Linked DNA regions of Homo sapiens. The protein of the gene in region 2 purifies or fractionates together with the protein of the main gene of each other region. This does not show direct contact. Each region holds a gene or a part of one and is shown on either strand. Other genes may lie near its edges. The genes, in order: ERF, OLFM4, ETV3 and P3H3.

What was found.
Region 1: the proteins of OLFM4 (region 2) and ERF purify together in Homo sapiens (affinity purification with mass spectrometry; 3 studies listed by BioGRID and IntAct, with this or other methods). This does not show direct contact.
Region 3: the proteins of OLFM4 (region 2) and ETV3 purify together in Homo sapiens (affinity purification with mass spectrometry; 3 studies listed by BioGRID and IntAct, with this or other methods). This does not show direct contact.
Region 4: the proteins of OLFM4 (region 2) and P3H3 purify together in Homo sapiens (affinity purification with mass spectrometry; 3 studies listed by BioGRID and IntAct, with this or other methods). This does not show direct contact.

The regions. Positions count from the first base shown.
Region 1 is NC_000019.10:42,252,108-42,259,941, forward strand, and holds the start of ERF (ETS domain-containing transcription factor ERF), read right to left. Parts: upstream 3,022-7,834; 5' UTR 2,893-3,021; coding exon 2,871-2,892; intron 2,529-2,870; exon of another isoform or gene 2,430-2,528; intron 1,793-2,429; exon of another isoform or gene 1,735-1,792; intron 1-1,734. UniProt on the Homo sapiens protein: Potent transcriptional repressor that binds to the H1 element of the Ets2 promoter. May regulate other genes involved in cellular proliferation.
Region 2 is NC_000013.11:53,031,796-53,038,817, forward strand, and holds part of OLFM4 (olfactomedin-4 precursor), read left to right. Parts: intron 1-2,552; coding exon 2,553-2,705; intron 2,706-7,022. UniProt on the Homo sapiens protein: May promote proliferation of pancreatic cancer cells by favoring the transition from the S to G2/M phase. In myeloid leukemic cell lines, inhibits cell growth and induces cell differentiation and apoptosis.
Region 3 is NC_000001.11:157,128,374-157,135,395, forward strand, and holds part of ETV3 (ETS translocation variant 3), read right to left. Parts: intron 5,855-7,022; coding exon 5,739-5,854; coding exon of another isoform or gene 5,707-5,738; exon of another isoform or gene 4,772-5,706; intron 299-4,771; exon of another isoform or gene 1-298. UniProt on the Homo sapiens protein: Transcriptional repressor that contribute to growth arrest during terminal macrophage differentiation by repressing target genes involved in Ras-dependent proliferation. Represses MMP1 promoter activity.
Region 4 is NC_000012.12:6,831,393-6,838,414, reverse strand, and holds part of P3H3 (prolyl 3-hydroxylase 3 precursor), read right to left. Parts: intron 6,591-7,022; coding exon 6,501-6,590; intron 4,824-6,500; coding exon 4,771-4,823; intron 4,674-4,770; coding exon 4,606-4,673; intron 4,491-4,605; coding exon 4,366-4,490; intron 1,431-4,365; coding exon 1,329-1,430; intron 993-1,328; coding exon 842-992; intron 684-841; coding exon 566-683; intron 458-565; coding exon 382-457; intron 1-381. UniProt on the Homo sapiens protein: Part of a complex composed of PLOD1, P3H3 and P3H4 that catalyzes hydroxylation of lysine residues in collagen alpha chains and is required for normal assembly and cross-linkling of collagen fibrils.

The DNA.
Region 1 (7,834 bases), on a different chromosome or scaffold from region 2:
AGAGAATCCAGATCACAAGGTCTCCTGCAAGGCCCAGGGTCCTTTGGAACCCAGGTGACCCAGCCACCAGCTTCATGGACCCTCATATCCCCTCCAAAAAGCTCCCAGCCCCTCTCAGGGAACCAAGCTCCATGTTACTTCCACCTCAGCCCCAATCTGGCTCTAGACCTAGAAGGGGGGCCAAAGCCCCTGAGACATCAATCTGGGGGTGGGGGATGTACTGACTTCCACCCTCCCCCCAAAATTAAAGCCACCCTTCCCAGCCCACCCGCCCCAGCCTCCGTGTCCCGGTAACCAGGCAACGTGTGTGCAGCGACAGTCCTGGGAGCGGGGGAGCAGGAGGCTAAAAATAAACTTTGCAGAAGAGAGGGAGTGAGAGAGACTACATGCAACACAAAGGGAACTCGGAAAGGAGGTGGGGGGGCTCTGGAAAGGCCTCAAGCCGCATTCTGGGAGCTGTCCCAGGCCCCCTTGTTAAACCCCTTCCCTGAGCAACCCCTCCTCCAGGGCCTGGACCCTGGCTCCCACTTCTGGCAGGGACCCTTCCCCACTCCCAAGCCCACCACAACGGCGGCTTTCCTCATCGGACACAGCATACATGAAGGCCTGTTCCCGGCTTTGGGGGGGGGAGAATGAAGAGGGGGTGACGTCAGGGTGTCTCAATGGGGCTCTGTTCCCCAGGCCTTGGAGCCAGGAGCCAGGCACGGGCAAGGGGAGCATGTGTGAGTGTGCTGTGTATGCGTCCACGTGCTTAAAACAGGGAAACACCAGACCTGCACGGAGGAAGCTTGGGGGTGCGGGACCTCGGGAACATGGGGGCCAGTGAGGCAGGGAGAGAGCAGGCACATGGAGAGAGGGGTTCAGGAGACTGCGAGACAGAGTGCAGAAGTGGCAGCAGTCAGACAGCAAGGGCTGGGATGGCGAGGTCCCAGAAGCACACCTGGGTCCCACAGAGGCGGGGTAGGGATTCTCCCAGACAGACTATGCAAGCCTGGGGGGACAAAACTCCTGGGCACCCCCCAACCTCACGTGACGGCCCAAACTTTTTTTAAGGGACTATGAGGGTCGGAAGGGAGGAGTGGTGGCAGAGGAAGAACACGCCGGCCTCCTGGGGGGCCCCACCACCTCCCCCACTCCAGGCGGCCCTCTATGGCGCCAGAGCCGGGAAGAAAACAGGAAGTGGGAAACAGCCACGGCAGAGAGAGGGACCGGGATGGAGAACTGGATGGAGGGGTGCGGAGCGGCAGGCCAGGAGGCAGACGGGAAAGATGCACCGATCGGAGGCCATTCCAGGCCTCCTTCCCCTCCCCTCCCCCAGCCGGAAAACCCACACACTGTCCCGCCCCCCGACAGGGTTGGGGAAGCGACCCGCGGATCCTATCAGGCCAAGGCCGGTAGCAGGGAGAGAAGATGAAGCGAGGTTGTCTGGGTGCCTCGGCCTCCTCCTTGGGCGAGGGTAGGCTCCTGCTGCCCCCAGGGCCCAGCCACCCGGGAGCGAGTGGAAGCCGGGGGAGTGTGTAGGACGCACGTGACTGACCCTACCGCACTCCGCACCCCGGCCCCACCCCCAGGGCCCCTCCTCGGTCCGGGTCCCAATCCCCTGGCGCCGGATCCCAGCTCGGAGCCCTTTAAGATTAAGCCGCCCCCACCCGCCGAGCAGGGGGATGGGGATGGGAATGGGGTGGGAATGGGGTGGGGATGGGGTGGGGTGGGTGGGCCGGTCGGGGCACACACCCGCACACAGGAGCCCGAGCCGCCGCCGCCGCCGCCGCCGCCGCCGGGGGAAGGAAACAAGTTTGAACAGCGGCGCCCGGCCCCCTTCCCCCTCCCCCGTCCCCGCCCCGGGCCGGATTCCGACGGGGTAGACGGGCAGGGGGCGGCTGGGACCCCTCCCCCTGCGCGCTCGGGCGCAAAGTCCAGCCCGCGCGAGCCCGGGGGCGGCGGGGGAGGGGAGGGGGAAAAGTCCGAGTGGGAGGGGGAGTTAATCCCGCTGCCCCCCGCCCGCCGACCGAGGGGGAGGGGAACCTTGGCCCCTTAAGGAGGAGCAAGTTGGCGGGGAAGAGAGGGGCGGAGGGAAGAGACGGCCCGCTGAAAGAGAAGAGGTGGATCCGGGAGGGGGGGCGAGGGGGGAGCCTCTGCGTCTCCCCCCACCTTCCCCACCCTCCTCAACCCCGGGCCACCGGTGGCGCGGGAGGAGGGTACCCAGGTCTCCCCGGAGCCACCTTAAAGCCGCGCGTTCTAAGGTCGGAAACAAAAAGTTCCTTTTTCGAACGTTCGGGCTGCGCTTTGGAACTTTGCGACTCGGCGAGGGCGGGGGAGCGAGGAGCCGACAGAGGCGGGCGGGGGAGGGGCGGCGCAGCCAGGACCCCGAGTCCCGGGCTCCCCACTCACGCCCTCCTCCTAGAGGCCATCCCGTATCCCCCGCTAACCTGGTGCAGGGCACGCGCCGCCGTGAAGGTCACCAGCAGGACCGCGCAGCGCAGAACCAGGGATAGCGGGCCCGGTGGACGAGCCCCCCCGCCCCGCACACGTCCCGGCCCCCAGAGTGCAACGTGACAAGAGCGGAGGGGAAGGACCCCGCCACCCCCGTGATCCCGGGAGTGGGGGAGAGCCCGGCCTGCGGGGTCCCGGTAGGGATACAGGACCAAGACCCGCAGCACCCACACCACTCCGCCCGGAGCCAGGAATCGGGGGTCCCAGGCAGCAACCCCGCTCGCGCCACGAGAAGCAACAGGTCTCCAGTGCTTGAGGGGTCCCCCAGAACTGGGGATCACTCGGGCTCCCCCGGACCCCTTCAGCCCCCCCAAAGTTTCTCCGTTCGGTTTCCCGGGGCAACAAGTCTCCCCCACACGTGCTGCCCCCGCCCCCACCTGTGTCCGCCGGGGTCTTCATGCTGGGGGGCCCGGGGCGAAGCGCCCCGATTCCGGGCCGCGGCTCCCGGCGCCCTCGCTGCCCCGTCCCGTCCCGCGCCCGTCGGGCCGCCCTCGCCGCCTCACCCGGCCTCGCCTCTCAGAGCCTCTCCCCTCCCCGCCGCCGCCTCCCGGGTTAATATCGCACTCCGGGGCCGGGACGCCCACGCCCCCCGGCCGGCGACGTCACCGCCGCGTCGCCATGGAGACACTGCGCCCGCCCCCTCCCCGCGCACTCACACACACGCTCGTCGGCGCGCAGCCACTGAGGACCGGCCGGCTCTGGGCTTAAAGGGGCCGCGCGGCGGGGGAGGGAGGAAGGAGGGGGTGGGGGTGGGATGGGGTCCCGCGGGTCATGACCCTAGTCAGAGGCTCCGAGTCTGCAGCTAACTTAAGTCTTCGGCACTCGCTACCTGCTGCCCCTCCTCCTCTCCTGCCCACTGCGGGCTCCAGAGTTTCTTTTGGGAGCCTGTATGGGAAAACGGGGGGCCCTTCCGAGGAAGCGGGGGTCAGAAACTTTTGTGGGGAGGGGGCAGAATCTTCTCTGCAGAGGGGCGGGGTCAGGACCTTAGAAGATGATGAAGACCACAGCATTTCCCAGCTTGGTTTTACCCAACCCCCCAACCCTGAGCCTGAATGGGGGCAGCTGTCCAGGGGTGGGGTGGAATGGGTGGGATGCATTTCCCAGCATCGGAAATGGGGAGGCGGCTGTGCCCTCCGCTCCTGTGGGGATGGGGTCTTGGCTTCCCTGATAACCCCCGTCCAGCTGGGGAGGAAGTGACCAGAGAGAATGCATTTGGAAGCCCCCACCACCACCGTCCCCAGGCTGCAGCTGTCCCGGGGATAGGGCTGGCGCCGGAGGTCCCCCCACGTCCACTACTAGGACCGGGGGTTCCGGAGGCGGGGCCGGGATACGAGGGGGCGACCAAAGTCTGAACAAATGTGCTCCCAAGGGGCACTGAGGGTCGCCAGGAGAGAGGAAGACAGGGCTTAAGATCGAAAGCCAGAGCGTAGAGAAGTGTTAAGTCTCCGTTCTCTGCCTCAGCCGGGAGGGAAGGATGAAGCCTGAGGCTCTGGGAAACAGGAAATCACAGCGCAGATCTGATGGAGCCCAGGAGCCGGCAGCAGGGTAGAGGCCAAATAGAAGCAATATTCACAGGCATAGCCTGGAAACAGAGTCTCAAAAAAGACTCTGAGGTTCCGAAGGAGGGGCGTATGGGTGGCGGGCGGGAGTTGGGGGGGCTGGGTGGGGGACGAATCCAGAAGATGGGCGGGGAGACAGAAAAGTCACAGATAGGGAAGGCCTGCGGAGCTCAGGCTCCCGGTACCCAGGGCTTCAATCCCAGCCTCCTCGCTTGCGGGGTACCTAGTCCACCTTAGACAGGCTCCTCACCAGTGCCTAAAAAAAAAAGTCTCAGGCCTCCTCCTTGGGGAGACCAAGGGCTCCAGGGAAGCTTTCCCCCACAACCCCCGGGAATTATGTAACCTTGCCTACGGACAGTACAGCTCCCCCACGGATATTGTAACCCTCTGGGAGCGGTGTGGTCCAGCAATAATAATCATCTTCATTGTTCGAATAACAGCTCCCGAATTCCGAGTGTTCATGATGTGCCAGGCACCGGGCCAAGCATTGTCAGGGGCATCTTCTCATTTAATCCTCACAAAATCCCAACGAGGGGAATTACTGCTGTTATCCCCATTTACAGATAAAGAAAGTGATGCTCTCTGAGGGAAAATCAGTCCACTAAATCTTACAGCCAGGAAGTATTGGAACTAAGATTCGAACCCAGATCTAACCAATTCCAAACCACCACATTTACCCTTTACCATTATGCTTTATTACCTCTTTTACTACCCCCTCCAAAAAAAAAAAAATGCAGATTTTCAAAGATACTACATCAGGGCCCGGCGCAGTGGCGCACGCCTGTAAACCTAGCACTTTGGGAGCCGAGGCGGGAGATCACTTCAGGTCAGAAGTTCCAGACCAGCCTGGCCAACATGGTGAAACCCCATCTCTACTAAAAGTACAGAAATTTGCCAGGCGTGGTGGCGCACCTGTAATCCCGGCTACTCAGGAGGCTGAGGCAGGAGAATCGCTTGAACCCAGGAGGATCGCTTGAATCCAGGAGGCGGAGGCTGTAGTGAGCCGAGATCGCTCCGCTGCACTCCACCCTGGGTAACAGCAAAACTCCGTCTAAAAATAAATAAATAAAAAGGCTGGGCGCGGTAGCTCACGCCTGTAATCCCAGCACTTTGGGAGGCCGAGGCAGGTGGATCACCTGAGGTCTGTAGTTCGAGACCAGCCTGACCAACATGGAGAAACCCCGTCCCTACTAAAAATACAAAAAATTAGCCGGGCTTGGTGGTGCATGTCTGTAATCCCAGCTGCTCGGGAGGCTAAGGTAGAATCGCTTGAACCCGGGAGGGGGTTGGTTGCGGTGAGCTGAGATCGCGCCATTGCACTCCAGCCTGGGCAACAAGAGCGAAACTCAGTTTCAAAACAAACAAACAAACAAAAAGATAACACATCAGTAACAAACCCAGTGACCCCTACCCTCCCACCAGCAAGACAGAGATGAGTTACACCCAACCTTTTTTTTTTTTTTTTGAGACGGAGTCTCACTCTGTCGTCCAGGGTGGAGTGCAGTGGCCCCATCTCGGCTCACTGCAAGCTCCGCCTCCCGGGTTCACGCCATTCTCCTGCCTCAGCCTACTGAGTAGCTGGGACTACAGGCGCCCCCCACCACGCCCGGCTAATCTTTTGTATTTTTAGTAGAGACAGGGTTTCACCGTGTTAGCCAGGATGGTCTCAATCTTCTGACCTCGTGATCCGCCAGCCTCAGCCTCCCAAAGTGCTGGGATTACATGTGTGAGCCACCACACCTGGCTGTTACACCCAACCTTTGCTACTTCTTGTCTCTGACAAGGCAAGTGAACTCAGTTCACCTCTTTTTTTTTTTTTTTTTTTTTTTGAGATGGGGGTCTCACTGTGTTGCCCAGGCTGGATTGCAGTGGCACAATAATGGCTCACTACAGCCTCGACTTCCCTGCCTCAAGCAATTCTCCCACTTCAGCCTCCTGAGTAGCTGGGACTACAGACACATGCCACCATGCCCAGTTACTTTTTTTTTTTTTTGAGATGGAATTTTGCTCTTGTCACCCAGGCTGTAAGTGCAATGGCACGATCTTGGCCCACTGCAACCTCTGCCTCCCTGGTTCAAGCAATTTTCCTGTCTCAGCCTCCTGAGTAGCTGGAATTACAAGCGCCCACCACCATGCCCAGCTTTTTTTTTTTTTTTTTTTTTTTGAGACGCAGTTTTGCTCTCCTTGCCCAGGCTGGAGTGCAGTGACACCATCTTGGCACATCGCAACCTCCGTCTCCTGGGTTCAAGCAATTCTCCTGCCTCAGCCTCCCGAGTAGCTAGGATTACAGGCATGCGCCACCACGCCCAGCTAATTTGTATTTTTAGTAGAGACGGGGTTTTTCCATGTTGGTCAGGCTGGTTTTGAACTCCTGACCTCAGATGATCCACCCGCCTCAGCATCCCAAAGTGCTGGGATTACAGGCGTGAGCCACCATGCCCAGCCAACCCAGCTAATTTTTTTTTATTTTTAGTGGAGTTGGGGTCTCTCTGTGTTGACCAGGATAGTCTCCAACTCCTGGGCTCAAACGATCCGCCCACCTTGGCCTCCCAGAGTGCTGGAATTACAGGTGTGAGTCACCCTGCCTAGCGAAGTTCACCTCTTTTTTTTTTTTTTTTTTTTTGAGATGGAGTCTCGCTCTTTCGCCCAGGCCAGACTGCAGTGGCGCTATCTCGGCTCACTGTAAGCTCCGCCTCCCGGGTTCACGCCATTCTCCTGCCTCAGCCTCCCGAGTAGCTGGGACTACAGGCACCCGCCATCACGCCCAGCTAATTTTGTGTATTTTTAGTAGAGACGGGATTTCACCGTGTTAGCCAGAATGGTCTCGATCTCCTGACCTCGTGATCCGCCCTCCTTGGCCTCCCAAAGTGCTGGGATTACAGGCGTGAGCCACTGCGCCTGGCCAAGTTCACCTCTTTGAGCCTCAATTTTCCTCATTTGTAAAATGGAGGTGTTAATAGATCCTACATGATCAAGTTATTGTGAAAAATCAGAGATGTGGCCAGGCGAGGTGGCTCACACCTGTAATCCCAGCACTTTGTGAGGCCGAGGCAGGTGGATCACCTGAGGTCAGGAGTTCCAGACCATCCTGGCCAACATGGTGAAAACCCGTCTCTATTAAAAATACAAAAATTAGCTGGGCGTGGTGGCTGGCGCCTGTAATCCTAGCTACTCAGGAGGCTAAGGCAGGAGAATCATTTGAACCCGGGAGGCGGAGGTTGCAGTGAGCCGAGATCATGCCATTGCACTCCAGCCTGAGTGACAGGGCGATACTCCGTCTTAAAAAAAAAAAAAAAAGAAAAAAAGAAAAATCAGAGATGCAAAGTAAGTATGCAATAAATACTGTTAATAATTATTAGCAGAGTGAACTCTATGCCCCATGGATAACAAGAGCACTCTACCCTACAGACTCCAACTGTAACAACAGTTAGAGTAAACAGCAATAAACAGGCTGGCTGCAGTTTGTGTCTGACACATGTAATCCCAGCACTTTGGGAGGCCGAAGCAGGAGAATTTCAAGAGGCCAGGAGTTCAAGACCAGCCTGGGCAACAGAGTGAGACTCTCTCTACAAAAAATTTATTTATTTTTTTTTTTATTTATTTGAGATGGAGTCTCCCTGTGTCACCCAGGATGCAGTGCAGTGGCAGGATCTCAGCTCACTGCAACCTCTTCCTCCCAGGTTCAAGCAATTCTCCTGCCTCAGCCTCCCGAGTAGCCTAGATTACAGGCTTGCGCCACCACGCCCGGCTAATTTTGTGTTTTTAGTAGAGATGGGGTTTCT
Region 2 (7,022 bases):
AAGGTGTCTTGTGAGGTACTCAGGGTCCTATTTGCCCTACAGAAGGGGAATCGCATATTCTTCCAAAGGCCAAGGGGACAAGCTCTTGTCTTTGTCTCCCATCCCCCATGCTTCATTCATGTAGAGTTTGGGCATTCACCGCAGAGAGAGACTCATCACCATTAGCTTCATTGTCTTTGAATGCGAGGAGCAGAAATATCTCTAATGGGAGACACTGATCAAACTTATGGACCATTTTGATGTCAGCTGAGCATGCTGGGCTGATGATAAGCAGGATGGAAGCTGGGGGAGTCCACAGCTTTGGGACAGAGATGTTCAATAGAAACCGATGGAATGGCTGACAGCAGGGCTCATAATTACTTGTCTGTCTTTCAAGTGAACTTCAGGACTAAAAGTTGTTAGCTAGTGGTTCCTAATTGACTGTCTAGAGATTGCTTGATGATATCCACTGTTTTCTGAGTTGGCAGAATTTTTCAGAGAACTCTGAGAATGGCCCAACCCTGTTTGTGCAGCTAATTAAACTCCCCTTGTTAAAATGCAATGCAAGATTTTTTTTTTGCTAGACTGTTATTATAATAAGCTATTTCTTCAAAAGTCCTTGATATGTCGGTCTTTTCTGTAAAAGCCTTGGCATGCTTGAGTTGGAGTCTTTCTATCTTTGGAGAAATGAGTAAAGCTGGTTTCAAGGGAAGCTGGCCTCTCTGATAGGTTCCTGGTGTATCTTACCGAGTCTTTATTCATCTCTGGCAAAGACCCTTCCCCTATTCAAACCCTGCTGTCCACCCCTATGTTCGACATAAATCTGCTTGTTTCTCCTCCCTACTCCTGAACTGTTTCCCACGTAGGGATGTGATTGGAAAAGAAAATTGAGACCAAGGTAATAAATTTTGACTAAACACATAAAAAATATGATTGGATACACACACATATTTTTTTTTTCTGCTCATCTTGAAACTTAAATTAAATTAAAAACAACTTAGATGCAAAAGCCTTGATTGGCCCCGAGGCCAGTGATAAAATAAGTCTTCATTATAGAAGCATCTAGACCCAGCTTGATCAGGCATTATGGAGGTTGGTGGCCATTAAATGCACAGGACCCATTACACCACCTGCAGCTGGCTGACCTGAACTTTGAGAGACATGGCCAGAGTCACTTCTGGCTCTGAAGACCATTGCTGTCTCCTTAGAGGTTTCATAAAAAGTCCCTTCAGGCTGATGTTCCACAGGTGAGCTTTGGGTTGGCTTTCAGATGAGATCATTAAAAGGCACAGCAAATTGGCTGCCAAGGGTTACTCTGTAAGGCAATAGTAGTAATAAAAAAATGTTAATTGTGCTGGGATCCTCTTGGGGAAGTTCAAAGGGGACAAAAGAAAAACAGGATCTTTCAAAAGTGTCATTTAAAAATATGCGGTGGCACTGAAGTGTGAGTCTGAATATCTTAAATGAACATAAAATATTTTAAAATGACTTTTTCTGCAAATGGTAAGCTGGAAAAAAACTTTTATTAAAAAAAATTGCACAAAACCTTCAAGCTCATACGCTATTCACTTTCTAACAAATGGCTGGTTCCCATTTTGAAGGATGTTAATTTGCAATTTCCCAGGCGATGAGAGGATATGAATTTGCATCATATATTTTCACTGTAGCCCACATCTTTGGTGATTCCCTCATTCTGATGAAAAGGAATTGGATTGGGTTGGGGTGAAGGTGAGGAAGAGAAAATGAGCAGTAGAAGGAAAGAGAATGTGACATTTTCAGATCACCTACTCTGTGCCAGGGACTTGGCTCACATTACTTCGTTAATACTGAGGACAACCCTGTGAAGTAGGTTATCTCTATTTTACAGATGAAGGAACTAAGAATTAAGGAGATTTCACATCTAGCAAGTGCTAGAATTGAAATTCAAACTTAGCACTCTCATAGCTTCTTTATTTCCCTTTCCTTGCATAGAGATAGGAATAATCTCCTTTAAGACTCCAGAATGGCCGGGCGCGGTGGCTCACGCCTGTAATCCCAGCACTTTGGGAGGCCGAGGTGGGTGGATCACGAGGTCAGGAGATCGAGACCACCCTGGCTAACACGGTGAAACTCCGTCTCTACTGAAAATACAAAAAATTAGCCAGGCGTGGTGGCGGGCTGTAGTCCCAGCTACTTGGGAGGCTGAGGCAGGAGCATAGAGTAAACCCGGGAGCCGGAGCTTGCAGTGAGCCGAGATCGCGCCACTGCACTCCAGCCTGGGCGACAGAGTGAGACTCCGTCTCAAAAAAAAAAAAAAAAAAAAAAAAAGCCTCGAGAATGGGGAATCTTCCTTTAGGTAAAGTCTGCTGGCGTAGTGGTTTTCGTACAACCAGTGGCGATGTGGCTAAACGCTGGGTGGTCCCCACCTGTGAAAACAAAGCTGTTTTAGCTTGTTTCTATGATTCTATTCATTTATGTATTGGACTCCACTTACTTGCCTGTAAGTACTCTCGACAAGCCAATTTCTGTCACTCCAGTTGCCAAAAGCTCAGATTCCAGCTTGTTATTGATGTTCAACTTGTTATTATTTGCAGTTGTTTTCCAATTTCACCGGCTCCGTGGATGACCGTGGGACCTGCCAGTGCTCTGTTTCCCTGCCAGACACCACCTTTCCCGTGGACAGAGTGGAACGCTTGGAATTCACAGCTCATGTTCTTTCTCAGAAGTTTGAGAAAGAACTTTCCAAAGTAAGCATTTTCTTTTCAAACAATATCTTGATAAAGAGAAACAAAACAAAATGTGTTTTAATTTAGGATTTTATAAGCAATCATTCTTCACTATCAAAGACATCACGTTTTTATTCTATGGTGATTTTAGTATTTATTTTATAGGACACCAATGGAGTTCTTATTAAGGCAGGGAAAATGAGAGCACAGGAAGAAAGTGGGGTTCAAATTGTTCACGCCGTGGATAAACTCACTATAGTATTGTGGTACTTAGGCAGTTGGAAAGAAGCCTTGAGCTCTCCTTGCAAACCCCAACCTGCAATTTTTATTTTGTTTTGACGCTGCTTCTTCCTTTTGGTCTTCTAGGTCTTTCCTCAAGCTTTGCTTTCTTTTCTTTCTTCTCCTCTATCCCCTTTAGTTCTATTCTATCTCCCTTCTCTTTTTCCTTTTCTTCTATTTCTATTCCATTCCTGCATCCTTTAGTTTCTTATTTCTCTTGCCTCAATCCTTGCCCTTATTCATCCCTTCTAATCTCTCTTTTCCTTTCCTGGTTAATTCTTTTTTGGGGGGGACATTTTTGGGTATTTTCTTACTTTTAGATGATCTTTTTTTCCCTCCTTCTTTTCCCTTCCTCCACTTCCACTCCTTCAAATCCTCTCCCTCTCATCCTCCTCCCTCCCTCTCTCTTTCCTTTAACCCTTTTTTATCTTTACAAATTGCTCACTTCCTTCTCTCTCCCCCTCACTCTCTTTTTTTGTGACAATAAGTTGTAGTCTCTTTTATTTTTTTCTATTTTCTCCAAGTGAAATCCAAGGTTGTAGTCTCTTTATTTTTAATCTTATTTTTTTTTGGTGTATAGTAGGTGTATGTATTAATGGGGTACATGAGATACCCTGAGACAGGCATGCAATGCGTAATAATCACATCATGGAAAATGGAGTGTCCATCCCCTCAAGCATTTATCTTTTGTGTTACAAACCATCCAATTAGACTCTTTTACTTATTTTAAAATGTACAATGAAATTATTATGGACTATAGTCACCCTGTTGTGCTGTTGAATACTAGGTCTTATTTATTCTTTCTAACTACTTTTATTTTTTACCCTTTAACTATCCCCACTTCCATCCTCACCCTCCATCTCTTTCTTGATGGTTATCTTCTATTGTCTCAGCAGGAACATTACATTTGATGTGTCCAATATTAGACAAAAATTGAAGGCTTCCCTGGGAATTTGAATCAAGACTAATAGGTTTCTCAGCCTTGGTAAAAACACTGACTTGAACTCTGATTACTGTTTTTTTCTTTAGCCAGAGGAAGTTATCTTAAAGGGTTTGCCTTTCTCTGGGCTGGCTGGAGCAATGTGACTTGGTGTTCTAGTTTTGACTCCTTCCACCTTTTCAGCCCAAGTTAAAAATCAATTAGAAAAGTTCCTATTTTCTGCACAGGTGAAGTCCAAGCTAGTCTATAATCACATTATGCATTATTTAATACAACTCCATTAATTTACAAGGAGCTCTGGCTTTACTGCAAGATTCAGAATAAGTTTTCCTAAGAAATTTGAGCTTTGCCACCTCAACATCCAACATAGTTATCCTTTAAAACAAAAATTATGATGAGGCTGAGACCCTACTTTCAGCCTGAATTGGTAGATAAATATTCTAAGTTTAAATGAGTGTCCAGGAAAATGTGTTTGACTACTCTAGAAACCTAGCTGCTTAAGAAATATAATGTCCTTGAATTAATCAGTGGAAAAGGCACAGCATTAAATTATAAATTCTAACCATTAATATTCATAGCCTTATTCCAGCATAATCAAGTACAGATAAGAAGTTATGCATAAAAACATAACAAGTAGAGGAAAATCCTAGGTAAAGATCTTTTCAGTTAGAGTCATTTGCTTTGAAATAGTGGAAACTACTGATTTACATGTTGTCTTTGCTGGCAGCAGTGTGAAAGGCAGTTTGAAACCTTATGTGCTCCAGGGAGAGTATGTGGCTTGCCAGGTTTGTGAATATGGGACATTTAATTCCAATACTGTACGGGGGGCTGGTAACATCTGCTTTGCTAATGACAGATAGGGAAGAAGTGCAGAATAGGTGGGAAAGTTTTAGTTCTGAATGTGTCGGTGGCTGCTCTGATCCCAAAAAAACTGTGATTGTGGCCTAAGAAAAAAGTTTATCTGCTAGCTAGGATTTATATAATCGATTTAGTGTGACAGGTGATAATAACAACAATAATAGTAGCAGTTTGTTTGTGCTTTTTCAAATGCTTCCAGTTCTATTCTCTCCTCTCAAGTAACCCTTTAAGGCAGATAGGCCAGGTGTTGTCTCTCCCATTTTAGAGACAGTAAAACTGCAGTTCATAAAGGTAAGGAGACTTGCCCAAGGTCATTCCTCTCTTGGCTGGTTAAGCCAGGTCAGAATTCGAGTCTTCAAAATCATCTCAACTCTCTTTCCTCTTGGCCATGCTGTTAGCATCCTCCAAGGTAGGCCCAGGAAGAGATGCAGTAGTAATGCCTTCAAATCCAAAGTTATCCCTTTAGCTGAGGGCTTTCGAATTTCCAAGTGAGTTATTACAGCTGTCCCTAGGTTGCCTTGAAAATTGTCATTTATCCGGGGGCCTGGGAGAATGCCCGTTTAGGACAGGCCAGTAGAAAAGGTTTTTGACTGCCTTACATTGATTCATTGTCTGTCAGTACACAGAGAAGACAGGGAGCTGCCTCTGCATAAGATGCTGAAAGCATTTTATACTTTTCTGTTGTTTACGGTATGTCCTTTTGTGACTATACTTAGGAAAGGGATGGCACAAAAGGCAGCTCAGGATTTTCTCTTTCTCTGGAGGCTTATGGTCTTTGGCATGAGTTATTTAATATGACACATTTGCTAGTAGATCCTCATGCACGGGAAGGTTGAGGCAGCCTAGGAGACATTAAGGCAACCCATAAAGAAATAACATTGATTGAGCCGTATTTGTATAGTGAAATATAATAAATTAAAAGGTCAGATTGGAAAATGCTGAAATTACTGTTTCTCTATTAATTTCTATAATTCATAGGGCCTCCATTAACTAGGCACTTAACGTACATTATCTCTAGTCTTTATGATAATCTTGTAAGCTCAGTATCATTACCCCCAGTTTACAGGAAACTAAGGGTTAAAGAAATTAAGTGATTTGCCCACTAAGTACTGAAGTTAGATTTGAGTCTAGTTGGGTCTAGCTCCAAAGTACTTTATATGTCTTTACAATCACTCCAGGCTCAATGAACCCTGTTACGTTTACTTTGAAACATATATTGAAAATAGTAGTATGTTGCAAAGTAAACGTACTTATTTCAAATAGTCTGGCCATAGTTATAATCACAGGTTTTGAGAGACTGGCAGAAACATGAACCAGATTAATTCTTTAGCTTGCTAGCACTACACCCTTATTTATTACAAGACCACATTAATTATAAGGAACAATAACAGGCACCCTCAAATCAACGCTCACACAAATTTTATTCCTCATCAATGATATAGTATGTGCATAACAAGCAAAATAAAATGGAAGCTGTGAATGTTAGGCTGGTGGCTTAAAGGCTCAACTAAAACATAGATGAGCCATCTAGTGCTCAGACTTGTCATGATGAGGAGCTTCGAGATAAAGATGTTGACACAGGACGTGTCTCCTCAAGGCTAGACCCATATTCTTGATAGAATGTTTAGCAGCGTCCCTGGTCTTTAGATGCCAATAGCACTCGCCCACCCCCCAGTTATGAGAACCAGGACAAAATCACCACCACTACCGCCCTCCCTCCATTTAGAACCACTTTTCTAGATCAAAATACAGCCATAGGTCAGCTAAAGACAGGGACATGTTCTGATAAATGCATCGTTAGGTGATTTTAACATTGGTGAACGTCATTGTATACTTACACAAACCTAGAGGGTGTAGCCAACTACACACTCAGGCTATATGATATAGCCTATTGCCAGGCTACAAACCTGTACAGCCTGTGACTGTACTGAATAATGTAGGCAATTATAATACAATGGTAAGTTTTTGTGTGTGCATATATATCTAAACATAGAAAAGGTACAGTAAAAATATGATATTTATAATCTCATGGGACCACTGTCATATATGCAGTCTGTCATAGACAAAAATGTTATGCAGCAAATGACTGTATTTTCCAGAAGAAGAAAAAAATGCAGAAAGTGCCCCAAGTGCCAGATGTGGGACTGGAGGCTCCCAGGCAGGCTGGGCTGCCTCTCCCAAGACTGCACCTCCCAGGAGGAGCTGACATGTGGTCAGCATTGTCCACGCATTCCCAAAGCTACAGATTCATATATGTGAAA
Region 3 (7,022 bases), on a different chromosome or scaffold from region 2:
GAGAAAGGCAAGAAGATTTGTGTTCAGAAGTGTGCCCAGTGCCACACTGTGGAAAAGGGAGGCAAGCACGAGACTGGGCCTAATCTCCATGTCTCTTTGGGTGGAAGACAGGTCAGGCCACTGGATTCTCTTACACAGATGCCAATAAGAACAAAGGCATTACCTGGGGAGAGGATACCGATGGAGTATTTGGAGAATCCCAAGAAGTACATCCTTGGAACAAAAATGATCTTTGCCGACATTAAGGCAGAAAAGGGCAGACTTGATAGATTATCTCAAAAAAGCTACTAATGGATAATAATTGGACACTGCCTTATTTATTGCAAAACAGAAATGCCTCATGACTTTTTTATGTGTACCATAATTTAACAGATCTCATAAACCAGAATCCAGATCATGAATGACTGACAGATTTTTGTTGGGCAGTCCTGATTTAATTAAGACTGACTTGAGATTAGATGAATATGTTTGGCTTTTGGAATTTTAACGGTAATTCCGATTTAGTAAATGCTATCTATCACTGTTTACCCCTTCTAAATATATGACTGGACTTCATTAGTAATGTTCAACTTTTCACAAAGATGATGAATGCCATCTTAAAACTTAATGGAGAATGGTTTTATATTTAGATTTACATAACTAGTTATGTGAATATATTTAAATACTGGGGAAAGTCCTTCACTGTCTTAGAACCAAGCAAGATTCACCAGTGTTTTATGTTCATTTGCCTCTTAAAGGCAAGGGCTGAAGATAAGGCAGCAATGTCTACTTTATATTTTTGGTTTTAACAATAATAGCCAATTTAATTAGAAATCTGTATCTAAAGTGATTTCTTTTACTTATTGAAAGGCATTTTAGTGGGTTTATGTGTAATATCAAATAAAGATTTAACACTTCTCACATTTTATAGGTGATCTATAGGATCAGATGCTTTAAAAATAGTAGCAAGTTAAACTTCACTCTTGAATTCTTTACCATCTAATTCAGACTAAGTTATAATTTGGGATTGCCTCTAAACAGCCATTCAGAAACATAACACTGTAGAACTGCTGTGTATTTGTGATTGGAAATGGTGCTTTTGCCAATTTAAAAGGAATTAAGTAGAGGAAATATAAACAAATTTAAAAATTATGCATGATTATAAGACTTAAGATAATTAAAAACAAAATCACAGACTGGAAAAAAAATAAAGCCACTGATTTAATTTTAAAATTAGGAAGAACAGATGGATGACCTTGCAAATGATTTGAGTAGAGCCAAGAGGGTCCCAGGCCAAATGTATTCTTCTACTAGCTTATTACAGTGGCTACAATTCTACCCTTTTTGATTCTTTTGGATCTTGACTTTCAATTAAGAGTACATCTACTCAAAAGCAAAAAGCCACTTCTATGTATTCAGAAGAAGGAAGTATAATGTGCAGGGAAAGGTCTTGTCTCCTAAGCAACTTAGAAATGCTTGGTTAAATCTAGTTTTGTTTTGTTTTTTTTTTGGAGACAGAATCTTGCTGTCGCCCAGGCTGGAGTGCAGTGGCACCATCTCAGCTCACTGCAACCTCCGCCTCCCAGGTTCAAGCAATTCTTCTGCCTCAGCCTCTCAAGTAGCTGGGACTACAGGTGCGCACCACCATGACTGGCTGATTTTTGTATTTTTAGTAGAGACAGGGTTTCACCATATTGGTCAGGCTGGTCTTGAACACCTGACCTCGTGATCCGCCCACCTCCGCCTCCCAAAGTGCTGGGATTACAGGCGTGAGCCACTGTGCCGGCCCAAAATCTAGTTTTTTATTAAAAAAGAAAAATAAACTGGAGGATATCTCAGTCTTTACATACGTTAAGGTATACTGTAAAGGAGACATAATAAGCAGTATTTTCCTGATGTATTTAGGTGGAGTAATGGGAGGTGAGACTAGAAGCAATACTGGGAAGCATTGCTTCTAGCATTCTGGAACCCTTATCTCTGATTAACTGAAGTAGCCCTACTTTTATATGTTGAGATATCAAACCTAAGATTTTGCTTAGAAAAAAAGTTTGCTGCTAAAAAAGAAAGTTTGAATACCATTGCTTTAGAAGTCCACCTCCATGAAGTCACCATGAAATTCAAGTACTGGGGTTGAAAAAACTGGGTCTGAATCTCAGTTCTGGCAGCTTCCACCTTGTAGCCTAGTACAAGTAGCACACTGGAATCTTTGACCCCCTCTGGCAAAATGGAATTCATAAGGTCCTTGCCTAGGTTCCAATCTTGGTCCTACCACTTACTAGTTATGTGCCTCTGGACAGCTTGCCTCTCTGTGCCTCAGTTTCCTTACCTGTAAAATAGGTCAGCACAGGGCCTATTGTTATGACGATTAACAGTTAATATTTGTAAAGCCCTTAGAATAGTACCAAGCATAGCAAATTGCATGTCATTGTTAAATAATTTTTTTATTAATCATGGTACAAAATTTAAACCCTAAAAAGACAACTGTCATTCGAATACGGACTATGTATTAGATAACAGAATTATATCAATGTTAAACATCCTGGGTGTGGTAATGTTATTGTGGTTATGGAGGAGAATGTCCTTGTTCCTGGGAAATACAAGCTGAAGTACACAGGGACGAAATGTCATGATGTCTGCAACTTAATCTCAAAAGATTTAAAAAGTATATATAAATAGAAAGAGATAAAGCAAATGTGGCTACAATATTAACCATTAGTGAATCTAGATAAAGGATATATGGGTGTTTACTGTCCTTCTTCCAGTATTCCTGTAGGTTTCGAGTTTTCCCAAATAAAAATTAAAAAACTGGGGTTGGTGGGAGTAGAGAGGCATAGACTGAGCGGTATCAAGTCCATCCCTGAACTGGTCTGTCCTGCCCCATCCTGACAGTATCTTCTGTATCTTTCCAATGTTTCTTATGCAAATATAAGAAAATATTTTAATAATGTGTTATACAGGATGCTTTTCATGATAAAATACACAGACCAGAATACCCCAACTGTCTCAACCCACCTTGTGGACATGATCTCAATGGCCTCCAGGATCTAAATCCACACAGCTCTATTTAGAGTACTTATCACATTTCACATTGTATTAAACCCGGCATATCTTATCTCTCCTGCTAAACTGTAAGTTCCGTGAGGTAAAGAACTCCCATTATCTGTTGAACAAATGAATCACAACCTAGAGGAGGAATGTATGATCTATTAAATAAGGGCTAGACTTCAACAGCTCGATCTCTCAGGAATTGTTTCCCTAGAAACTGTTCAATAGATAACTATTCAACCTACCCTGATCAGTCTTTAACTTTGCTGTCGTTTTCCTAATTTTATCATTTGTAAAATGTGGATATCAAGACATTCACTTCACTGGGCTGAAAAGTTGAATAACGTAATTCACAAAACTACTAAGCAAAAGTACCTCCATAAAGCAGATGTTCAATAAATGTTACATTCCTTTGTTATCATAAAGTTACCTTAAACAACATTTGGCCTCTCTGGTCAAAAGTTCTTTAAAAACTAATGACACCAGTTCTTTGCAGTTGTCTATACCTAGGATGTGAGCAACCAGGTAGTAGAGATAGATGTACTAAAAGAAATGTACACAGTTTTGCTTTCCTTGTGCTTTATTGAGACTGAGTCTCGCTGTCGCCCAGGCTGGAGTGTAGTGGCATGATCTCAGCTCACTGCGACCTCTGCCTCCCAGGTTCAAGTGATTCTCCTGCCTTGGCCTCCTGAGTAGCTAGGACTACAGGTGACTGCCACCTGTACTTTTAGTAGACATGGGGGTTTCCCCATGTTGGCCAGGCTGGTCTTGAACTCCTGACCTCAAGTGATCTGCCGGCCTTGGCCTCCCAAAGTGTTGGGATTATAGGCATGAGCCACCTGGCCCGGCCCCTTGTGGCTTTTTGATTAGGATCTTGAGCTTGGGTTAAAGATCAATGTTGGTTCAATCGCCTTCGGGCAGAACAGGTGTGCTGGGCCACTATTGTTAGGTTTCTAGATCAGATTCTTCACAGAGTGAGGATCCAGGTTTCCTTGCCCTGGAAAACCACATTACTTCCCAGGGCTTATGAATGCCCCATTCTAGGTTGTCCAAGTGGCTGAAGTTCTGGATTTTCAATAGATAAAAATGGGTCAAAGACAGAAGAACAAGACGAATGAAACATTTTTTTGGGAGTGGGGTGAAGGGGTATGAAAACCAACAAATTCTTTAAAATTGTTGGTATATACATCTAGATTCCCAATTCCTCTAGGCATACAAGGAAGGGGCAAGAGTGAGAAACAGAGGAAGCAAGATTTGAGTGGCGAGTACAGGTCTGATTTCCTAACGCCTCTCCCTCAGGCACAAGGAAAGAAAACAGGTTGTAATTAGAGAGATGCATTCCAATACCACTTTTTTTTTTTTTTTTAAATGCATGCCCCAGGGACAGGAGGGAGTGGTTACAGAAGTTGAGATGAAACTGTAATGATAGCAGAGTCAAGCTAAAACTGCCCTAACTTGTTGTGTAGTAATTACATATCTGCAATGGATCTCAACATTATGTTCTCTCAACCACACCCCCACTAATTTTTCAGGTTTCTTCCAGCTTTTCTGAGAAGTTGTATTACTGCATGATCAGCATTCTTTGCCTTAGCATACAAGGCCACAATGACAGAGTACTTACTGATGGACTGGTCAGAAAACAGTTAAATACAATCTACAGTAGTCCTTTCTTATCTGAGGTTTTGCTTTCCACTGTTTTAGTTACCCACAAAGGTCTGAAAATAGGTCTGTACAGTACACAAAGATATTTTGAGAAAGACCACATTAAGTTTATTACAGCATATTGTTATAATTTTTCTATTTTATTATTGTCATTAATCTCTTACTGTGCCTAATTTATAAATTAAACGTTATCACAGATACATATGAGTGGGGTTAAGGGAAGAAAAAACATCATATATATGAATGGAGTTTGGTACTATCTGTGGTTTGCGAATCTACTAGGGGTCTTAGAACATATACTGCTCAGATAAGGGGAACTACTGTATTTTCTTGGGCAGGAGTATGATTTGCATAAGGAAAAAAATCACAAACAAAAAACCACACAACAACAAAGTCTTTTGAGAGACTGCTTTCAACATCAAGAGAGAATGTGGGGAGCTGTGATGGAAAGCTATAACCAGGAAAGTCAAGAGGGGAAGCCCTACTGCACTTAACAGGAGAGAAGGTCAAGTAACCCCAGAATCTTTTTCTCTGAGGATTTGCTGTTGCAGATCAAAGACACTGCTTTTCACTGCAAACATGTGAACCTCCCCCTTCTCTGATCAAGGATGCTGTGGTTTTGATGATATTCACTTGATAAGGGAGAGCTTGGTAGTTTCACAGAAAATCGGAAGTGTTTGTAGAAACAGGTTCCCATCTATGAAAGAACCACTGGGCTGGGTGTTAAAACTGAGTCCTGAACGTAAAGATCATCACAAACCTATGAAACATCATTCCCAAACAAGATAGCGTAATAGTATCTAGGAGATTACAAACAATATGCAGAAAAGGGAACCAACCAAATAAACCAAAGAAATCTATCTTGATACTGAATAGCCTATAACTCTCCTTATAAGTGAGATGACTTGAGTAAGAACATTGAGGCAATCCAAAGGATCACATTATTTTAGTGTTTCTAAAATCTTCCTAAACATGCCATGTCTTAGATTTGGATTTTTAAAAATTCTTTTCAATTCAAAATTAATTCCCTACCAAAAGAGTTTGTATCTTACCACTTGACCGAATGTTGATGAATGGGTAGTTGGGCATCACCAGCTTGTTGAAGTTAAATTTATAGGTAAATCTTTTCCCTTTTGTTTTATGAAGGATCCTCTTGTTGTAATAGTATCTGTAAAAACAGGAATACATGTCCATTCGTCTTGTAGCTACTGACAGCTTTCAATACACTTAGGTAGCCACTGAGACCAACAATTCTTGCTCTGAGTATTACTTACAAAAATCACTACCAATCTTTCGCAGCCTGGCCCTCCAGGTAGATCTAGGAGACCTAACAGCTTAATTTTCTTACTCAATTTTCAACTCAGCTCGTTTTTGCCTAGAGGTTTACAAAGACAACTTCACTTTAAGATTCTGAACACTTATCCTAGCCCCAAACATTTTCTTCTCCATCTCTCTACAATTTCGATTCTACAGTCCATTTCCGTCCGGTTGCACTGCATGTCACTAACTGCTTAGTTTTTCTTTTTGGTCTTGCCCAGGTGGGGGCAGACAAATCACTAGGGAGACCTGATGTGGTTAGTCTGGAGGCCTAAGCTCAAAAGACAGACAAAGGAATGTACAACTGTTTTATGGTGGCAGGTCAAACAATGGCATGCCCTGATCTGGAAAACAGCAGCTAGTGTGGCCCGCCTCACCTTCAAAGACTCAAAGGGATGTGAAAGAATACAGCAAAGCCACTGTACAGAGTTTACATTTCAGGTCAGGAGAACTTCAATTATCTGGAACCTTTAGTCTTACATCTATGCAGTAGCAGAGGTCATAAACTGCCTTCTAGCCCCTTGAGGGCTAAAGGACTATGAAATGTAAGACCGACAAGGGGAAAAAAGAACCTGAGAAAACTTATAGTGATCAATCTTTAGACATATTGCAGCAGGCTATGGACAACCTGAGCTCACAGACACAGTTCCGGAATAGATAGGTCAGTATCACTGAATCTTCCTCCCGTGACTTGCTTCATCCTTTTCTAAGTTTCTTTCAGGGAAGCCCAAAGAAAGAAATTCTAACAGATTCTAATAGAGAAGTCTAAACTAATCCTTTGGATTATAAATGAACTCCAATCCATGTTTCACCATATACTCTCGCCCACTACAGAGCAGAATCAGCTGTCTGTCAGGATCCAGTGCCAGCCACATTGGAATCCCCTCCTACGTATAACCAAAGATATGCCTTTTCTCCTCCTGTGCCTATGCTACTCACATTCAACAGCTCTTCTACTCCCACTTTAAAGTGACACATTATTCACTAAGATAGTGTAGTCTTTTATTACCTGATACCCT
Region 4 (7,022 bases), on a different chromosome or scaffold from region 2:
GAAAGGTTCAGAATCCGAGCCCCAGTCAAGGCGGCCCTGGTATCTGTGCGCCAGCCACTGTGCTCACCTCGCTGCAAAGAGGAAGGACTATTTCAAGTTCCCCAAATCCCTAGAATAGGGCCATGGAGTCCTGGAGGCACCTGCAAGCTGTGCTTCATTCACCCTTCTTTAGGAGGCGAGACAAATACTGATGGTAGGGTTGATTCGGCCACTTAGAGACCTTGCTACGGAGGAAGCAGCGGGAGGGCTGCGGAGGCGGGGAAGTGAAAGGGTTAAAAGCCCTGGCCATTTCCCTGCATTTGCCTCTGGAGCCTTCTGTTTTGAATCCTGACCCCACAGCTGGGCCCTTTGTCACACCGTCACACCCCCCACTCCACGCACCGTGACAGTGAGGGCGTTGGGCTCCGTGAAGAACAGGTCCCCACCCTGGAAGTCATCGTTGAGGTAGAGGAGTCCGCTGGGGAGGGAAAAAAGCAAGAGGCAGTGAGACCCCAACCCAGGCCCAGGCCGGCAGTGGGATGACCTTTGTCTGCCCACCTGCCTGACCACTAGAGGGGCTGCCCACCTGTAGTCCCGATAGGTGTAGGCTGGGGGCTCCCGCCAGCACTCTCCCGTGTCAGGGTCCAGGACGCAGTTGTCTGCGTGCACTGGGTGACTCAGGTCCATGCGCTGCTCTTGCTCTCCTAGGACACAAAGGGGTCTGGGGGTACCTCTGTGCCCCTGTGCCCATCTGCCACCCTGTGGGCTCAGGCCGTGCACGTCCACCCCGGGGCTCTTGGGGGCAGTGTCCTGGGGGCAGGGCCTGAGGTTGGAGAAGAGCAGTGGGGGGTCCCTGTCGTACCTTCTATGGCGCTGCGGCACACCAGGTGGGTGAAGGACAGATGCAGGGGCCGTTCCGGGGAGAAGTAGGCCTGGGTCAAGGTCCGCACCCGCTCGCTCACCTCCAGAAGCAGCTTAGCACCCTGACTGCCCACTGTCCCAGCCCGGGCCAGCTGCAGGCAGTGAAAGGCAGGGCAGAAAAGGAGGAAGGCAAGGGGAGGGTGGTCTCGGCCCTAGCCCCTGCCCAACTCTGCCGCTCTCCACCCATGGGTTTGGAGTCTGTCAGCATCCAGCTCTGTCCATCAGCCCAAACTGCTCCTTCTCTCTCCATGACAACAACCCCGGCCCCAGCTCTCAGAACATCCCTTTTCTCCACGCTGGGTCCTATCAGGTAGTCTCGGTCCCAAGAAAGCTCCTTCACAAAAGCCCAGGCCCTGGGGCCCGGCTTCCTGCACAGCCTCTCCTCCAGGTCTGGGCATCAGACGGGCCCGGGTGCCTCCTGTGCTCACCTGCGCAGCCTTAAGCACCGTGAGCCCCTCGAAGCGTTCATGGGGGGTGTGAGGGGAGCGGCGACCACGATAGCCAGACCTGGCTCCAGCCCCAGCTGCATCCTAAATAGGAAGGAGTTTACCGTGGAGTCACTCCCCCAGCCCCTCACTGTCTGCAGGGCTGCAAGACCCTCCCTCCGGCCCTCCCGCTCTCCAGAAGAAGCTAGATGCTCCCACAGTTCTGTTGTGGCTCGTCTTCCTGAGCTGCTGCTCTTTCCCAGAGAGTGCCCACCGCCACGGCTGTCCGATTGTCCCTCTCTGGTACGGGCTGGAATCCCGCTTACTAAGGGGACTGTGGAGAGAACTCGGGAGAGCTTCCTACAGCAGTAAGGGGGCCTCTGAGAGGGTAGGGACAGCTGGAAAAGTGGGGCAGAGCTGGGAACTAGGCAGGAAGGGCTTGATCATTAATCCCCGATGAGCCAAGAATAGAGGAGTCCCTCTGGAAACAGGACCCTAAGAGGAAGTTCCACAGTTAGGCCAGACTGGCGGTAGGGAGACAGCATCAGCGGGCTATCCCTCTCTGACCTCTTCCCACCTGACATGCTCTCGGAGAAACTGTGGACTCCGTGGCTCCCCCACTCCTTGATACTGAGTCACAACTACCCAGCCACCTCCGCGACCACTCTCACTACCTGGGGGTCTCCTAATATCTGGATGTCTACACTGGAATTATTCGCTTTTCTGACACCCGTTTTTTGTCTACTTTTTGAATTTGTTTAAGCACCACTATCTAGTTACGCCTGCATACAAATCTCACTTCTGAGAGACACCTAGTCACCCAAGCCGTCTAACCTGGGGTTTTTTTTTTTTTTCATTTTTTGTTTTTGAGACGGGGTCTTGCTCTATCGCCCAGGCTGGAGTGCAGTGGCGCCATCATAGCTCACTGCAATCTCCACCTCCCAGGCTCCAGAGGTCCTCCCACCTCAGCCTCCCAAGTAGGTGGGAACATATAGGCGCATAGGCCCAGCTAATTTTTTGTATTTTTGTAGAGACGGGGTTTTACCACGTTGCTCAGGCTGGCCTGGAACTCCTGGGCTCAAGCCATTCGCCTGCCTCAGCCTCCCAAAGTGCTGGGATTACAGGTGTGAGCCACCTCGCCAGCCAACGGTGGCATTCGTCAATTACTCCCCTTTTCCGGGTCTTTCTCCCACTGCATTCTACAGACTGCCACTAGAGGGCTCTACCACTCCTACAGGTGACTCCAGACCCTGCACCTGATTCCAGGTACTACAGGAATGCAAAAGTCAACCGTCCTAAAATCCTGCAACAGCTGTCTACCATACACAGATAAAGCCCAAACTCCTTGGGAGGCCACAGAAGACACTCACTGTCCCTCGGCCTTCATGTGTGGGCTCTCTCCCTCTTTCCCTATACTGTCTCTTGGTAACATACACCCTGATGATTCTATGTTCTTTTTTAATTAATTAATTAATTAATTAATTATTTAAAAAAATTTATTTTTCGAGGCGGAGTTTTGATCTTGTTGCCCAGGCTGGACTGCAATGGTGCGATCTCGGCTCACTGCGACCTCCGCCTCCTGGGTCCAAGCGATTCTCCTGCCTCAGCCTCCCCAGTAGTTGGGATTACTGGCACCTGCCACAATGCCCACTAATTTTTTTGTATTTTTAGTAAAGACCGGGTTTCACCATGTTGGCCAGGCTGGTCTTGAACTCCTGACCTCAAGTGATCCACCTGCCTTGACCTCCTAAAGTGCTGGGATTACAGGCATGAGCCACCACACCCAGCCAGTGATGATTCTGTGTTCTAAGAGCTTTATCATGTGCTAACTCATTTAATCCTCACAACGACACTATGACAAAAACACTATTATTATCCTCATTTTATAGATGAGCAAATTAGGCTCAGAGATGTTAAAATAAATTGCCCAAGATCACACAGGTAATGACTATGGAGCTGGCCCTGCTCTCACCCCTGTGCTTGACTGCAGTTCCCAGAATGCACCATGCTCTTCTCCCTCTTAGACTGATTCCACCCCCAATCGCCTGACTAACTCATCCTTAAGACTGAGCTCAAATACCACCTCTCCAGCAAGCCTTCTATAACTGCATTTCAGTGCTTCTATTTGACATACTTTTTTTTTTTTTTTTTGAGATGGAGTTTCGCTCTTGTTGCCCACGCTGGAGTGCAATGGCACGAGATCAGCTCACCACAACCTCCGCCTCCCGGGTTCAGGCGCTTCTCCTGCCTCAGCCTCCCGAGTACCTGGGATTACAGGCATGTGCCACCACGCCTGGCTAACTTTTTTGTATTTTTATTAGAGACAGGGTTTCTCCATGTTGGTCAGGCTGGTCTCGAACTCCCAGCCTCAGGTGATCCACCCACCTCGGCCTCCCAAATTGCTGGGATTACAGGCATGAGCCACCATACCCAGCCCAAAAACATACTTCTTTTACCAAACTTACCACCTGCTTATATTATGTATTTCCTTGTCTGTTTCCACCTCTACACTTGAGCTCCCAAAGGGCAGAGTCTATAATCATCTTCCTCTCCCTAGAACCTAGCAGTTTCTAGTGTATAGCAGCTACTCAGTGAGTATATTACTGAATGAGCACTAACCTAAGATAAGGGTTGAAGCTTCATAAAATGGTAGCCTCAACCTGGTGAGTATGAGTCATTCAACCTAAACTAGGAGGGAAAGAAAGGCCTGCGTGTCTGCTGAGCCATCAGCCAAGCCAGTAACTAAACTCTTGGCTAACCAAGCAATCCTTACCTGCACACTCATCCATTTTTATGCCTTCATGTTTTTTGTTTTGTTCTTCCTATCAATTTCTAGCAAAATTCATTTGTAAAGAACATCCACCTATGTCAGCTAAATTAAGACGAGACGGAACTTATCCACAGCTGAGAGGCAGTGGTAAGCACAGTCCCGGTTGGATAATCAGGACAGGCAGAATGAAGGGGGCAGGCCAAGAGCAAGGGAACAGGTGATTGTATCCAAGAGTCTTGAACGAGCTGATGAGCTTGCAGGTCTTCCTACCTTAGCCAGCTGCAGCAGCACCCCACACTCGGCTGGGGTGAGCAGCCCATCCAACACCGCCCGCTCCGACCCATTCAGCTGCCTGGAATCCTGGGTCAAGGTCACACCCTCCAGGAGAAGGACATCTGCCAGGGAAAAGACAGAGCAGAGGGGGCTGAGCATCCCCTAAGGGCAGGCAGAGCAGTAGCTGGCAGCCCCCAGACCCTCCAGGCTCCTGCCTTCTCCCTCCCAGGAACTCACCCTTCCAGTAGGTCAAGGGCTTTGGCTTCACGGGCTCATGGTCCCAAGGCCTCTTCTCTTGATCCTCTCTCAGGGGTGAGAGATGCGCTCAGTGGGTGCCCAGGACAGTCCAGACCCAGCCTCCCAGCTCGGGCCAAGCCCCTCCCACCATGGGGCATATCCTACCTGAGCTTTTCTCTAAGTGCCTCAGGGATGAGAGCTGCAGGGGTCCAGGGGTCCTGCGACAGTCCAGAAAAGCATCATCACCCACCAAGGTCAGCCCCTGGAATCCCTGACATTAGAGCTGAAATATCTCATTAAGTTTCTTCTGTTTCCAGAGAGGAAGACGGAGGTAGGAAAAGCCCGGGACTCAATGTCAGGAGCCCTGGGCAGTGGATCAAACTGTAACAACAAGTACAACTATAACTCATATAGCACTTACTATCTGCTAGGGGCTATTCTAAGAGCTTTATTCATGGAAATGGAATTTATCCTTTAAAGTTCACAACAGTCTCATGAAACAGAATATTAAAGTGCTCATTTTGTAATTGAGAGCCCTGAGACACAGAGAAGTAAAGTAACATGCTCAAGATCACACAGCTACAAATGACAGGGTTAGTTGTTTTTTGTTGTTGTTTTTTGTTTTTTGTTTTTTTGAGACGGAGTCTCACACTGTCGCCCAGGCTGGAGTGCTATGGCGCGATCTCAGCTCACTGCAACCTCCGCCTCCTGGGTTCAAGCGATTCTCCTGCCTCAGCATCCCAGGTAGCTGGGATTATAGGCGCCCGCCACCACGCCCAGCTAATTTTTTGTATTTTTAGTAGAGACAGGGTTTCACTATGTTGGCCAGGCTGGTCTTGAACTCCTGATCTGGTGATCCACCTGCCTCGGCCTCCCAAAGCAGCGTTAGGTTTTAAACTAGCTGCAGGCCGGGTTCCGGTGGCTCACGCCTGTAATCCCAGCATCTTTGGGGGTCCGAGGCGGGTGGATCACCTGAAGTCAGGAGTTCAAGACCAGCCTGGCCAACATGGTGAAACCCCATCTCTACTAAAAATACAAAAATTAGCCAGGCAAGATGGCGGGCACCTGTAATCCCAGCTACTCAGGAGGCTGAGGCAGAAGAATCGCTTGAACCTGGGAGGTGGAGGTTGCAGTGAGCCAAGATCGCACCATTGCCCTCCAGCCTGGGTGACAGAGTGAGACTCTGTCTCCAAAAATAAAAATAAAAATAAAAAAAACTAGCTTCAGAGTTCACACATTTAGCCAGTCGTTCTCAAGCAGGACACTTCTGCCCCCAGGGGTCATTAGGCAAAGTGTGGAAACATTGATTGCCATGACTCAGGGGCTGTCAATGTGCTATTGATCTCTACTGGGTAGAGACCAGGGAAGCTGCTGAACACCCTCCAAGGCATAGGACAGGCCCTGCCCTCTGCCCCAACAAAGAATTATCCAAAATGTCAGATCCAAAATATCAGTAGCGCCAGGAAGACTGAGAACGCCTGCTTGATGCCCTAGTCCTAGCCATAGATAACCTCCGCCCCGCAGTTTCCTCTCATAACTACAAGAAGAGAAATAAAAGCAGCAGTAACAGAGCTTTCTATATTTTGTTATCAAATGATGTGGTTTCAACAGCCCTGTGAAACAGATGTGATTATTCCAACTTACAGGTAAGGAAATTGAGGCAGAGGCAAGTTGAAGTTCAGAGATGTTTGGGGCAGAGGAGGACTGACATTTAGGCCTGCGTGACCCCAAAGCCGCCCTAACTACAGGCACACTGTCTCCGTCCCTGTAAAACTGGGATGGCAGACTCTTCTCCAAGCCTCATGGTGGAAAAATGGAAAACTCTGTTGCAAACCAAAGTGCCATCCCTCCTGGGAGTGCGGAGGGGTGAGATGGGCAGAAGTGGAGTGACTCACAGGATCCTTGAAGCTGGTCCCCAGGTGCTCCATGGCATAGTAGAGCTGCCTCTTCTCCCCCAGGGATCGGAGGATGAAGCGCTGGATGTCCTGAGGGTGAGATGATGAGCAGTGAGGGGTAGCTGGAGGAAGGCAGGGAAGCGCCGGCTCTAGGGCACTGCCTGGGTGCTCCATGCTCCTTGAACCTGGCACCATGCCCCCCGGTTCCTCTGTTCAACGTTCCCCCTCAGCAGCTTCAGAGCATCTGGACTTAAACTGGAAAGGGTGTAGGGGGTGGGAGTGTGTGTGAGTGTGTGGGTGTGTGTATGCATGAGTTTGGGGGCTGGTGGCAGGCAGGAGTGAAGTAAAGGCAAGAGAGACGGGGCTGAGGGCTGGAATCGGAACTCCAGGCTGCCGTGGGGAGCAGGGAGTGGAGACGGAAGTCAGATGCTGGACTTGGAGTCCTTTGGGTGACTAGAGTGCTCGGGTAAGAGGCCAGCGGGGGGTGGGGGTCCAGGTTACTTCTCAGGTCTATTTGTTTGA